Linked DNA regions of Homo sapiens. Each later gene encodes a partner of the first gene's protein in a complex. Each region holds a gene or a part of one and is shown in the gene's direction. Other genes may lie near its edges.

Region 1 (3,740 bases):
GGCGGATGGATCACCTGAGGTCAAGAGTTCGAGACCAGCCTGGGCAACATGGTGAAACCCCGTGTCTACTGAAAATACAAAAATTAGCTGGGCATGGTGTCGGTGCCTGTGGTCCCAGCTACTCAGGAGGCTGAGGCAGGAGAATCGCTTGAACCTGGGAGGCGGAGGTTGTAGTGAGCCAAGATCGTACCACTGTATTCCAGCCTGGGCGACAGAGTGAGACTCCGTCTCAAAAAATAATAATAATAATAATAATAATATAAATAAATAAATAAAAAGGCTTGATTTAAATTTACAAACCAACCTTCCCATCTCTTGTGGCCACAGTTCTTGGAGCCCTGCATTCTGGGTGGGCTGGGAGGCCCCTTGCGTGTGCACCCCAGCCCCGGGTTGAGAGGCCACTGTGTGCCTGTGTGTGCAACAGCCTCCGTCCAGCCTTGCACCCTGGCCTCACCTATGGGGCCCTGCAGCCCTTCCCCCTCCCCGTCCCAGCAGCTCCCCGCACCCGGGGAGGAGAGGCGCGGCCCGGCGCGCCGTGGGACCCCGTCTCAGAAAGGCCACACTTCCTCCCTGTAGGCGAGGAGGATGGCCGAGACCAGTCCAGGTTGGAGACCCAGGTGTGGGAGGCGCACAACCCACTCACAGACAAGCAGATCGACCAGTTCCTGGTGGTGGCCCGGTGAGTCCTGCTCCTGGGCAAGGCCAGCAGGGGTGGTGCCTGGAGCTTCTGTTCTCCCTTCCCTGTGGTGGGTGTTGGGGACGTGACAGTCTTGGATCCCATATCCCAACAAGAAGCCCATGCGCTGCAGCCCTGAGACCCCCGGTAGCAGTTCCCAGAGAGGCTCGGGAGTGCTGGGTCCAGGCCCTTCATTAAATAGAAGGGCGGCCCTTCTGGGGGGCAGGCCTGTGTGCCTGCCCATGTGTCCCTAATGGGGCTTTCCCAGGATGGGCCAGAGGTGCTTTCCCACTCCTGGGCCACTGGGAGCAAGTGGGCTGGGCCTGGTCATGGAGCAGAGCAGCTGCAGCCCGGGCAGACCCCTGGGGCAGGGCGAAGGCCGAGGCCCAGGAGAGGACCATGCACCTTCCCTGCCAGCAGCCTGGGAGGTGGAGAAAACCCCAAAAGAAGCCCCAAGGCGGCTGCCAATCTATCGGGATGCCCTCAGTTAGACGCACACGGGTTCTGGGGTGGGTGCCGGGCCCTACTCCGCAGCCTGGGGCCCAGGACACGAGGAGTCCTCGCCACCTGCGGGCTGCTCCCTGCGATGCTCATGCAGTCTGTCCCTGGTCCCTGGCGCCTGGGGAGCTGTGTGCCTGGGGGGAGTCCGCGCTGCCCGTGGCCCCTGGTCCCTGGTCCCTGGGGAGCTGTGTGCCTGGGGGGAGTCCGTGCTGCCCATGGCCCCTGGTCCCTGGCACCTGGGGAGCTGTGTGCCTGGGGGGAGTCCGCGCTGCCCGTGGCCCCTGGTCCCTGGTCCCTAGGGAGCTGTGTGCCTGGGGGGAGTCCGTGCTGCCCATGGCCCCTGGTCCCTGGCGCCTGGGGAGCTGTGTGCCTGGGGGCAGTCCGTGCTGCCCATGGCCCCTGGTCCCTGGTCCCTGGGGAGCTGTGTGCCTGGGGGGAGTCCGTGCTGCCCGTGGCCCCTGGTCCCTGGTCCCTGGGGAGCTGTGTGCCTGGGGGGAGTCCGTGCTGCCCATGGCCCCTGGTCCCTGGCGCCTGGGGAGCTGTGTGCCTGGGGGGAGTCCGTGCTGCCCATGGCCCCTGGTCCCTGGTCCCTGGGGAGCTGTGTGCCTGGGGGGAGTCCGTGCTGCCCGTGGCCCCTGGTCCCTGGCGCCTGGGGAGCTGTGTGCCTGGGGGCAGTCCGTGCTGCCCATGGCCCCTGGTCCCTGGCACCTGGGGAGCTGTGTGCCTGGGGGGAGTCCGCGCTGCCCGTGGCCCCTGGTCCCTGGTCCCTGGGGAGCTGTGTGCCTGGGGGGAGTCCGTGCTGCCCATGGCCCCTGGTCCCTGGCGCCTGGGGAGCTGTGTGCCTGGGGGCAGTCCGTGCTGCCCATGGCCCCTGGTCCCTGGTCCCTGGGGAGCTGTGTGCCTGGGGGGAGTCCGTGCTGCCCGTGGCCCCTGGTCCCTGGTCCCTGGGGAGCTGTGTGCCTGGGGGGAGTCCGTGCTGCCCATGGCCCCTGGTCCCTGGCGCCTGGGGAGCTGTGTGCCTGGGGGGAGTCCGTGCTGCCCGTGGCCCCTGGTCCCTGGCGCCTGGGGAGCTGTGTGCCTGGGGGAAGTCCGTGCTGCCCATGGCCCCTGGTCCCTGGCACCTGGGGAGCTGTGTGCCTGGGGGAAGTCCGTGCTGCCCATGGCCCCTGGTCCCTGGCACCTGGGGAGCGGTGTGCGTGGGGGAAGTCCGTGCTGCCCATGGCCCCTGGTCCCTGGCACCTGGGGAGCTGTGTGCCTGGGGGAAGTCCGTGCTGCCCATGGCCCCTGGTCCCTGGCACCTGGGGAGTGGTGTGCCTGGGGGAAGTCCGTGCTGCCCATGGCCCCTGGTCCCTGGCACCTGGGGAGTGGTGTGCCTTGGGGGAGTCCGTGCTGCCCGTGGCCGCTGGTCCCTGGCGCCTGGGGAGCGGTGTGCCTGTGGGGAGTCCCTGCTTGGCCGACACTGTGGTCAGCGCATCTCCTTTCCCCAGCTCTGTGGGCACCTTCGCACGGGCCCTGGACTGCAGCAGCTCCGTCCGACAGCCCAGCCTGCACATGAGCGCCGCAGCTGCCTCCCGAGACATCACCCTGGTAAGTGGGCCCAGGGCGGGACAGGTGAGACCTGGGGTGGCCCATGGCCCAGAGTGGCTGCGCCCTTCTTCCTACCAGGGCCCAGCACCTGCCCCAGGTATTCAGGACCCCTGCAGAGGTGCTGTCCCACCTGGACTGGCCTTTCCTATCCACCCCAAACTCGGCCAGACTGTGCTGAGGGTGCAGGGAGGGTTGTGCTGCTGGGCCTGCAGTAGGGGATCCTTGAGGTACTGAGGGAGGGGGTACCGTGCCACAGGTGCAGGAAAAGCCACCTTGGCCCGGGTGACCCTGCTGTCTCCTGCCGCAGTTCCACGCCATGGATACTCTCCACAAGAACATCTACGACATCTCCAAGGCCATCTCGGCGCTGGTGCCGCAGGGCGGGCCCGTGCTCTGCAGGGACGAGATGGAGGAGTGGTCTGCATCAGAGGCCAACCTTTTCGAGGAAGCCCTGGAAAAATATGGGAAGGATTTCACGGACATTCAGCAAGATTTTGTGAGTACCGTGGGTGGCGATGGGGGAGTGGCTGGCCATGCCCATCTCCAGGTAGGCTGCGGGGGTGTGGGCTCCACATCCCACTCTGCCCTGAGGGAGCCTGTCCTGCACCCTGATTCCCTGTGCGGAGCTGCATGAGTTCTGTCTCAGCTGCGCTCGGCCGCCATAGTCCTTCCTGTCACACTGGTTCAGCAGACAGGCATGGGGGCGCTGGTGGGGCCTGGGCATAGAGAGCCATGCTCCTGCCACCATTGCGTGATGAGGATAAGGGTTGGCCCAGGTGACGGAGGCCAGGGTATCCTCACGGAGACTTTCCCTTCCTTGCTGCCCCCTCCAGCCCCAGGCTTGGTTTTGCTTTGTTTTTGACTAAGCTGAACCTCTTGACTCCTCATGTCCTTGTTTTCTGTCTCACGTGAGTTTAGCCCAGCAGCAGGCCTAGAGAGTCTTCATGGCGTGGGGTCTCCCTTCCCTGTACCTCCA
Region 2 (3,740 bases), on another chromosome or scaffold:
CTGTGAGGTGTGCCAGCAGGGTGGGGAGATCATCCTGTGCGACACCTGCCCGAGGGCCTACCATCTCGTATGCCTGGACCCAGAGCTGGAGAAGGCTCCCGAGGGCAAGTGGAGCTGCCCCCACTGTGTAAGCCTTGGCAGAGCCCCGGGCTGGGGGCGGGGCCACGCCTGGCTCCCCCACCCCTGTGCCCTCATTTGGGGGCAGAATGCGGGGAGATGCTGTAGGGGAGGGAGGGAGTCGGGCCTGGTGGAGCGGGGACCCCGCCCAGGGTGCCTCCACCTGGCCTCCTCCCCCAGGAGAAGGAGGGGATCCAGTGGGAGCCGAAGGACGACGACGATGAAGAGGAGGAGGGCGGCTGCGAGGAGGAGGAGGACGACCACATGGAGTTCTGCCGCGTGTGCAAGGACGGGGGCGAGCTGCTCTGCTGCGACGCCTGCCCCTCCTCCTACCACCTGCATTGCCTCAACCCGCCGCTGCCCGAGATCCCAAACGGTGAATGGCTCTGCCCGCGCTGTACTGTGAGTGTTCCGCCCGCCCCGCGCCGGACGCCCCGCCCCACCCCAGGAACAGGCCCCGCCCCCAGGGGAAGGCCTGCCCTCCTCAAAAGGCCCCGCCCCTGCCGGCTCCTGCCCCGCCTCGGTAGCCGATCCCGCAAAGCTTCGCCCGCGCTGCTCGAGACCCCGTCCACAATAGCTTCCTCGCGCCCTTCTCCGCGTCTGACTCCCCTAGAGACGGGAGGCATGAGTGTTAGGGAAAGGCAGACAGGTGTGGTGATCATGCCAACACCGCGACCACTGTTCAGTGACCACGTGCTCTGCAAGGGCTCCACATCCATCATAGTGTCCTTTAACATTACTGAGTATTCTGGCACCAGGCATGTTACTCCCTTTTTAGATGAGAAAACTGATGCTCAGGGAAGCAGAGTGACCTGCCTAAGGCCACACAAGGGCAGAACTATCCACTCAAATTCAGGTTCCTGGAGCCACCCCAGACCTGGCTCCTGTTCCAAGGCTGGGGATAGGGAGAGGGCAGGAGGCTTCTAGGGCAGGAGGCTCCTAGGGCGGGAGCCTCAGTTTCTACAGGAAGAGGGGCACCCCCCATCCGTCACCCCCCAGTCACAGTAGACATCGGAAGGCCCCTTGCTCTGAGCTGTCTGTCCTGCCCCCTGTGGTGCCAGATCCTCCACCCCTCAGGTCCTGGGCTGTGCCTCCTTTAGCCCTGGGCCGTCCTGTGTGCATTGTGCGTGTGTATGTGTGTGCGTGCATCCGTGCGCATACTTGTCTGTGTCTGTGTAGGGGCCAGGGGAGGACCCTTTTGAGGGGTGCAGCCTTCTGTGCTTTCCTAGGATTGATGGAAGGCCCTGGGGATGGGAGGGGGGCAGGAGTGGGGTTCCTCTCAGCTTCTTCCCTGAGGGGCTGGGATGGGGGTAGGAGGGTCCATGGCCTGGGTAGGAAGGGTCCCCTCTTCCACTCCCCCAAGAGCCAGTGGAGGAGCCTTTCCTGCCTCCCATGTCCTCCTCCTCCTCCTCTGCCTCTCGGCCTTTGCTGTCACCAAGGCCAAAGGAAGGCTGGCTGTGTGGTGTACCTTGCACCTCCAGAATGCCTTCAGGTGTGATGTGGCACCACAGATCTGGTAGGTGGAGGAAGGGGTGGGCCATTTTACAGATGGGAAAGCAGGCTCTGGAGGCTTGGATGAGTTTCCGAGGACAGGTAGTAGCAAAGCTGGGACCTGCTATCCCCACCAGAGCTGTCTCCCTGAATCAGTCACCCCCGACCCTGTCCAGTCAGACAGCACCGCCTCCTTGGAGGGCCAAGGCTGCTCCCACCCATCTCAGGGCCCGAGTGGTGTGGTTTGTGGCTGTTGTATTTCTTGCCTTTGCCAGCCAGCAGCTCACTGTCACCCTAGCATCTGTCAGGGCCCCTGCAGTGTGTCTGTGGGCTGCCAGAGATGGGGCCTCATTGTCCCAGCCTAGACGCACGGTGCCTGGGTGCAGCCCTGCCCCGGGTGAGGGATGGTGGATGGGGCTGCCGTGTCCCTGGGCTCCAGCACAGGGCTCATGCTCCCTGAGTGCTTGGGGATCACACAGTGATGTGACCTCTTTTCAGGGGGCAATGGGAAGACCTAAGGTAGGGGAAGTCCAGAATCTCATGTTCTGCTCCCTGCTCTGCTGTCCCTTGCCGAGTGGGCCTCAGTTTCCCCCTCTGTCCTATGCACATGGCAGTCTCACCTACGCTGGCTCAGATATTCTGGGTGCCGATAAGTTCACCATTGAGTGAAAGGGCCACGTGGTCTCACAGACCCCCACTGCCCATCTCCTGTGTGCATGACCCATGCGGCTCCTGGGGACGGGGTGGATGTCATGGCGTCACCGTGGTACTGTTCTGACTTGGGGGCAGTGGCACTGATGGGAGGGAGCCTGCATGGCAGCCTGCTGTCATGGGAGCCTCAGGGTGGGGCCCTGCAGCTGAGCCCCACCTTGGGGACCCTTCTCTGTCCACAGTGCCCCCCACTGAAGGGCAAAGTCCAGCGGATTCTACACTGGAGGTGGACGGAGCCCCCTGCCCCCTTCATGGTGGGGCTGCCGGGGCCTGACGTGGAGCCCAGCCTCCCTCCACCTAAGCCCCTGGAGGGCATCCCTGAGAGAGAGTTCTTTGTCAAGTGGGCAGGGCTGTCCTACTGGCATTGCTCCTGGGTGAAGGAGCTACAGGTGAGTGCCCGGGAGGGTGGCTGTGCTAAGGCCCGGGACCTGGTGAGCCCTGGACCCTCCTGGGCTGGCGGGAAGGGGCTGAAGCGCCTCTGACTGAGGGGTGCTGTTGGGAGTTGGGGTGGTGCTGAGCGGGAGGATTGTCCTGCCTGGGACCTGGGCTGGGGCTAGAGGAGCTGGGTAGGGAGATGCAGGGGACCATGGCCCATCTCCCTTCTGTGACTTTGTGCCGCTCCATGAGCAGCTGGAGCTGTACCACACGGTGATGTATCGCAACTACCAAAGAAAGAACGACATGGATGAGCCGCCCCCCTTTGACTACGGCTCTGGGGATGAAGACGGCAAGAGCGAGAAGAGGAAGAACAAGGACCCCCTCTATGCCAAGATGGAGGAGCGCTTCTACCGCTATGGCATCAAGCCAGAGTGGATGATGATTCACCGAATCCTGAACCATAGGTGTGTGCCTGCAGGCGGCCACCCTGCCCATCGCTGGGGCCGGGCCACGTCAGCTTCTTTGCCCTGTAAAATGGGTGCAGCGCAGGGTGCCAGGGCCCTTGCTTTGGGGCTGCCGTGCAGAACCACATGTGGGCACAGCAGGGGCACAAGGAAGGGCCCAGGGTTCCCAGTGCTGGAGATCTGCCTGACCTGCTAGAGGGGCCGTCCCATGCATGCCGGCACACTCATGCATACGTGTTCACACCCCTGGGGCGTCGGGACCCTCATGCTGGGTTAGTGCTTGATACCAGCAAGAGGGTTCTGAGGACGAGGGACGCCCGAGGTGTGGGAGTATGTCCACATTTCCCCCGCGTTTGTAACAGCAGCTGGCTGTACTGAGCACTGCCTACCCTGGGAGGGAGGCGTCTTACTTTCACCTCTGTTTTACTGATGTGAGAATAGGCACAGCAAGGTTAAGTCGCCAGAATCACACAGCCACGGGGTGGAGCTGGGATTTGAACCCCATGCTTTCTGACTGCAGGACCTGCTTTCTTAGCTACTGTTGCACCCCCCAGTGCCCCAGCAGCAGCTCTTCCTGGA
Region 3 (3,740 bases), on another chromosome or scaffold:
GGAGCCAGAGAGGTGTAGTGACCAGGATCAGAACCCAGGTCTGTGCCGGCAGAGCCTGTGTTCGCCATGCCATGCTTGCTGCCACATCAGAAGCTCAGGAAACTGGGGTTTGGCTGATGTAGTTAGGGGGCTCTGGGGGACATCACCCTGCCCAATTCCTGCAGTGGCCATGGACGTGCCAGATATCGTGGGCGTTGTGCGTCCCCCTCCCAAGCAACCCGCCCCTATAGCGCACGTGTCTCATCATCCGCATGTGTCTCATCATCCCCACGTGGGAGGCGTGGAAACTGAGGCTCGGAGTGGCACGGTGCTCTGCCCAGTTCAGGATCCAAGTCCACGTTTGCAGTTCCAGCCCAAGCTGGAGCATAACCCTGGGCTGCAGTGGCAGCATCCAGGGCTGGCCTGAGACTCAGGAGACAGCTCGGAACGGTCCCCGTTCTCGGAGAGAGGGGCAGGTGCCGGGGTAGCTGGCTCCCTGCTTTGGTCTCCTCTATGCTGTGTGCCCTGGGGCCACCCCTTCAGGTCCATTTCTCTAAATCGAGGGGCCTGGAGCCAGGGTTCTCCAGTGCTCCTCCCGGCTCCCCCAGCTTGAGGCCCTGAACTTCCTTCCTCCTCTGCCCCTCCCCTCACCCACACCAAGCGAGCAGCTGGTGGGTTTGGCCAGCCTGGCACCAGCTGTCTGTCCCCGAGGCCAAGTCTGCGGCGCCCACTGTGTGTGTGAGAGAGAGACCGTGTGGCTCTGGGGGCGGCAGGCGGGCAGCTGCCGAGGAGGACTAGGTAAATTCTCCATGGTTACCGCTGTTTGTCATTCTGCAGGATATCCTTTACCCGCTAATGGCCACTGGGACGCCATTGCGGGGCCGCGTGCTCCTAGCCACGGACTCCCCTGCCAGATCCAGGAGGCTGCGTTCTGGGCTGGGCCCTGCTTGGTCACTGACTGCAGCTCTGGACAGGCCCCAATGTTGCATCCCATATGTGGGGCCTCAACCCTCCTGTCTTGGGATACAGAGCCCTTGGGGCATAGACTGCTAAGAGTCTGGTCCCCTCTTTGGGGAGGGGGAGACAGGCACAGAGGGGTTGAGGGGCTTTATCTGGGGCACACAGAGGCCATGGTGTTCTCTAGATTTCTGATTTGATGTCCAGCGTGCCTGTCTCCAGCCAGGGTTGGGTCTCAAATACTCCAAGGCCTTCCTGTCTTCCCTGTCATTGAGCACAGCAGAGATTTGAGCGCATAGAAGCAAAAAGGCTTGGAAGCTCAGCCTGGTTTCGACCAGCCTATGTGGCGCTGTGGTGTGATGTGGCCTCTAGGTTCTCAGCCTCTGGGGACCAGGACACAGGGAGAGGGGATGGGCAGAGTTCAGGCCAGGAGTGGCAATAATTTTATCTTTGGGAGCAGCCCTGCTGCTTGGAAGGTTCTGGTTGGATGGGATGGAGCTCTGTGAGGACCAGCGGCTGCTGCAGAGCTGGGGATGGTCAGGTGCCTTGTAGCTACATTTCATTATCCATCTTATATGCTGGTCAAACCGGAGGTGGAGAGCAGGGTTCTCCATCCTGCTACAGTTGGTGGTGTGGGTCCTGGGCAAGGGCTGTTGCAGGACCCGGAGTCCTTGCCTTGGTACAACTGGCTGAGCTGACTCCTGGCCTCTCTCTCCCCACCCCACAGCTGGGAGTGTCCACTCGCCTTCCACCAGCATGGCAACGTCTTCACAGTACCGCCAGCTGCTCAGTGACTACGGGCCACCGTCCCTAGGCTACACCCAGGTATGTCAATGGGGGTGATGGCATGGTGGGAGGGCCAGGGGGAGACATGCTTCCCACCATCAGAGGAGAGAAGTTGGTGGAAGAGACGAAGGAGCAGAAAGGATGGGACGGAGCTTTCTCAGCCCAAGGCCCTGGCTGCGCTCCTGCTCAGAACACATCAGAGTGGAGGGCACTGGGGACTGTGCTTCGCGGGGACGTGTGAGGTGGAGGGGACAGGAGAGCACCAGGAAGGGGCAGCAGCCCAAGCTGTGCTGAGGCTCCCACCCCACGCGTTCCTCCAGTGGGCCTCCTCACTCCTCTTTCTTGGGCAAGTGAGGCCTGACCTTGATGCTGGCTCTCCAAGCTGGGACAGAAGATAGGGTCAGTTCCCACTTGCTCTCCACGGGCGCGGGCCCAGCAGAGAGGAGGTGGCCCTGTCTTGAGAGCCCAGCTGCCTTTTGTCGAGGGCCAGTATTTGAGAGTGTGGCCTGGGCGAGGCCGCTCCCTGGTTCCACCACTTTCCAGACTGTGACCCCCCACTTGGTAACTGCCCAAGACCCGGGCTCCTCATCAGCCCAAGGGTGATCCTAGTACCCCCAGCCCAGGCTGGCGAACAGCAGGAATGGGGCCGCCACCATCTCAGCTGCACCCTACATCTCCAAGGGATGAGCCGCCCCGGGGAAGGTCCCAGCGGGAAGATGCTCTCCCTGGCTGGGCCCCAGCACCAGTGTTCTGAGGTCGCTATGGAGCCTGTTCCTCGCCAAGTGGGCGGCTCCCCGGCCATGCCCCACCAGGCTGCCCTGCCCCAGGAGGAGAAGCAGGTGTGGGCCTGTGAGCGGGACCGGCTGAAGAAGCGGTGGCTGTGGGAGGCCAGGCAGAGGGGCAGCCGGGAGTTGGCAGTGCCACGTTCTGGCCATGCGACGGCGGCGCCAGGACAGGCGGGAGGCCCGTGAGGCCTGGAGGCAGTGCCGTGGGGAGGCAGAGCAGCCGGAGCAGGACGAGGACAGGACAGAGCGCGAGGCCAGGGGACAGAGGCGGTGGTGGAGGAGGGGGGAGGCAAGGACCTCGCCCAGGGAGCTGGCGTGTCTATGGGAGGAGGTGGCCAAGGGGAGGTAGCCTGGGCTTGTGGGCTTGCGGGCTTGTGGGCTTGCCGGAAGCCCAGCCTCGCTGATCCGGGTGCTTGCTGTGGGGCTCCCAGTGGTGGTGGGAGGAAAGGTTTTCTGGGGGTTGGGCCCTGTTGGTGGGAGGATGAGAGAAGGGAATGCATTCCAGGCTCTGGCTGGGCCATGGCGGATCGCTGTGGTCCTGGTGGCCCAGGTGTGGCCTCTTGTCTCCCCACTGGCTTGGAGGCTTGGCACCTGGGATGTGCCCTCCCATCCATCTGCATCCTGGGAAATGCTGTTTGGACTCTTTTGTGCCAAAATGAGCTGTTTCCCCTGTTTTGTTCATTGGAGATAATAAAGTTGCTTCCTGGAGACGACTGGGTGGCCTCCCTGAGTGTGTGAGGATAGGAGGGTGAGGACCATCTCCCTAACTTGTAGTTGTCCCCTAGAATGGGACGTGCCTTGGCCCAGCTGAGGTGGCTGCCCCAGAAGTCTGAGGCTGGGCTGCGTTCCCTATCCTGACCGGCCCGGGGCCCTCTCCACCCACCTGCCTGTGGCCTTGGGGTCAGGCTGCTGAACCCTTTTTTTTTTTTTTCCCCCGAGATGGAGTCTCGCTCTGTTGCCCAGGCTGGAGTGCAGTGGAGTGATCTTGGCTCACTGCAACTTCCACCTCCTGGGTCCAAGCAGTTCTCCTGCCTCAGCCTCCTGAGTAACTGGGACTACAGGCACGCACCACCACGCCCGGCTGATTTTGCTGAACCCATTTCTTTCTGATTCTAGGGAACTGGGAACAGCCAGGTGCCCCAAAGCAAATACGCGGAGCTGCTGGCCATCATTGAAGAGCTGGGGAAGGAGATCAGACCCACGTACGCAGGGAGCAAGAGTGCCATGGAGAGG

The links.
Region 2: MTA1 (region 1) and CHD5 share a complex: the UniProt entries of both Homo sapiens proteins name them as parts of the nucleosome remodeling and deacetylase (NuRD) repressor complex.
Region 3: MTA1 (region 1) and CDK2AP1 share a complex: the UniProt entries of both Homo sapiens proteins name them as parts of the nucleosome remodeling and deacetylase (NuRD) repressor complex.

What each region holds. Positions count from the first base shown.
Region 1 is NC_000014.9:105,457,694-105,461,433, forward strand, and holds part of MTA1 (metastasis-associated protein MTA1), read left to right. Parts: intron 1-576; coding exon 577-679; intron 680-2,664; coding exon 2,665-2,764; intron 2,765-3,071; coding exon 3,072-3,260; intron 3,261-3,740. UniProt on the Homo sapiens protein: Transcriptional coregulator which can act as both a transcriptional corepressor and coactivator. Acts as a component of the histone deacetylase NuRD complex which participates in the remodeling of chromatin.
Region 2 is NC_000001.11:6,145,633-6,149,372, reverse strand, and holds part of CHD5 (chromodomain-helicase-DNA-binding protein 5), read left to right. Parts: coding exon 1-127; intron 128-297; coding exon 298-519; intron 520-2,501; coding exon 2,502-2,708; intron 2,709-2,949; coding exon 2,950-3,161; intron 3,162-3,740. UniProt on the Homo sapiens protein: ATP-dependent chromatin-remodeling factor that binds DNA through histones and regulates gene transcription. May specifically recognize and bind trimethylated 'Lys-27' (H3K27me3) and non-methylated 'Lys-4' of histone H3.
Region 3 is NC_000012.12:123,265,206-123,268,945, reverse strand, and holds part of CDK2AP1 (cyclin-dependent kinase 2-associated protein 1), read left to right. Parts: intron 1-628; exon of another isoform or gene 629-777; intron 778-1,663; coding exon 1,664-1,761; intron 1,762-3,623; coding exon 3,624-3,740. UniProt on the Homo sapiens protein: Inhibitor of cyclin-dependent kinase CDK2. Also acts as a component of the histone deacetylase NuRD complex which participates in the remodeling of chromatin.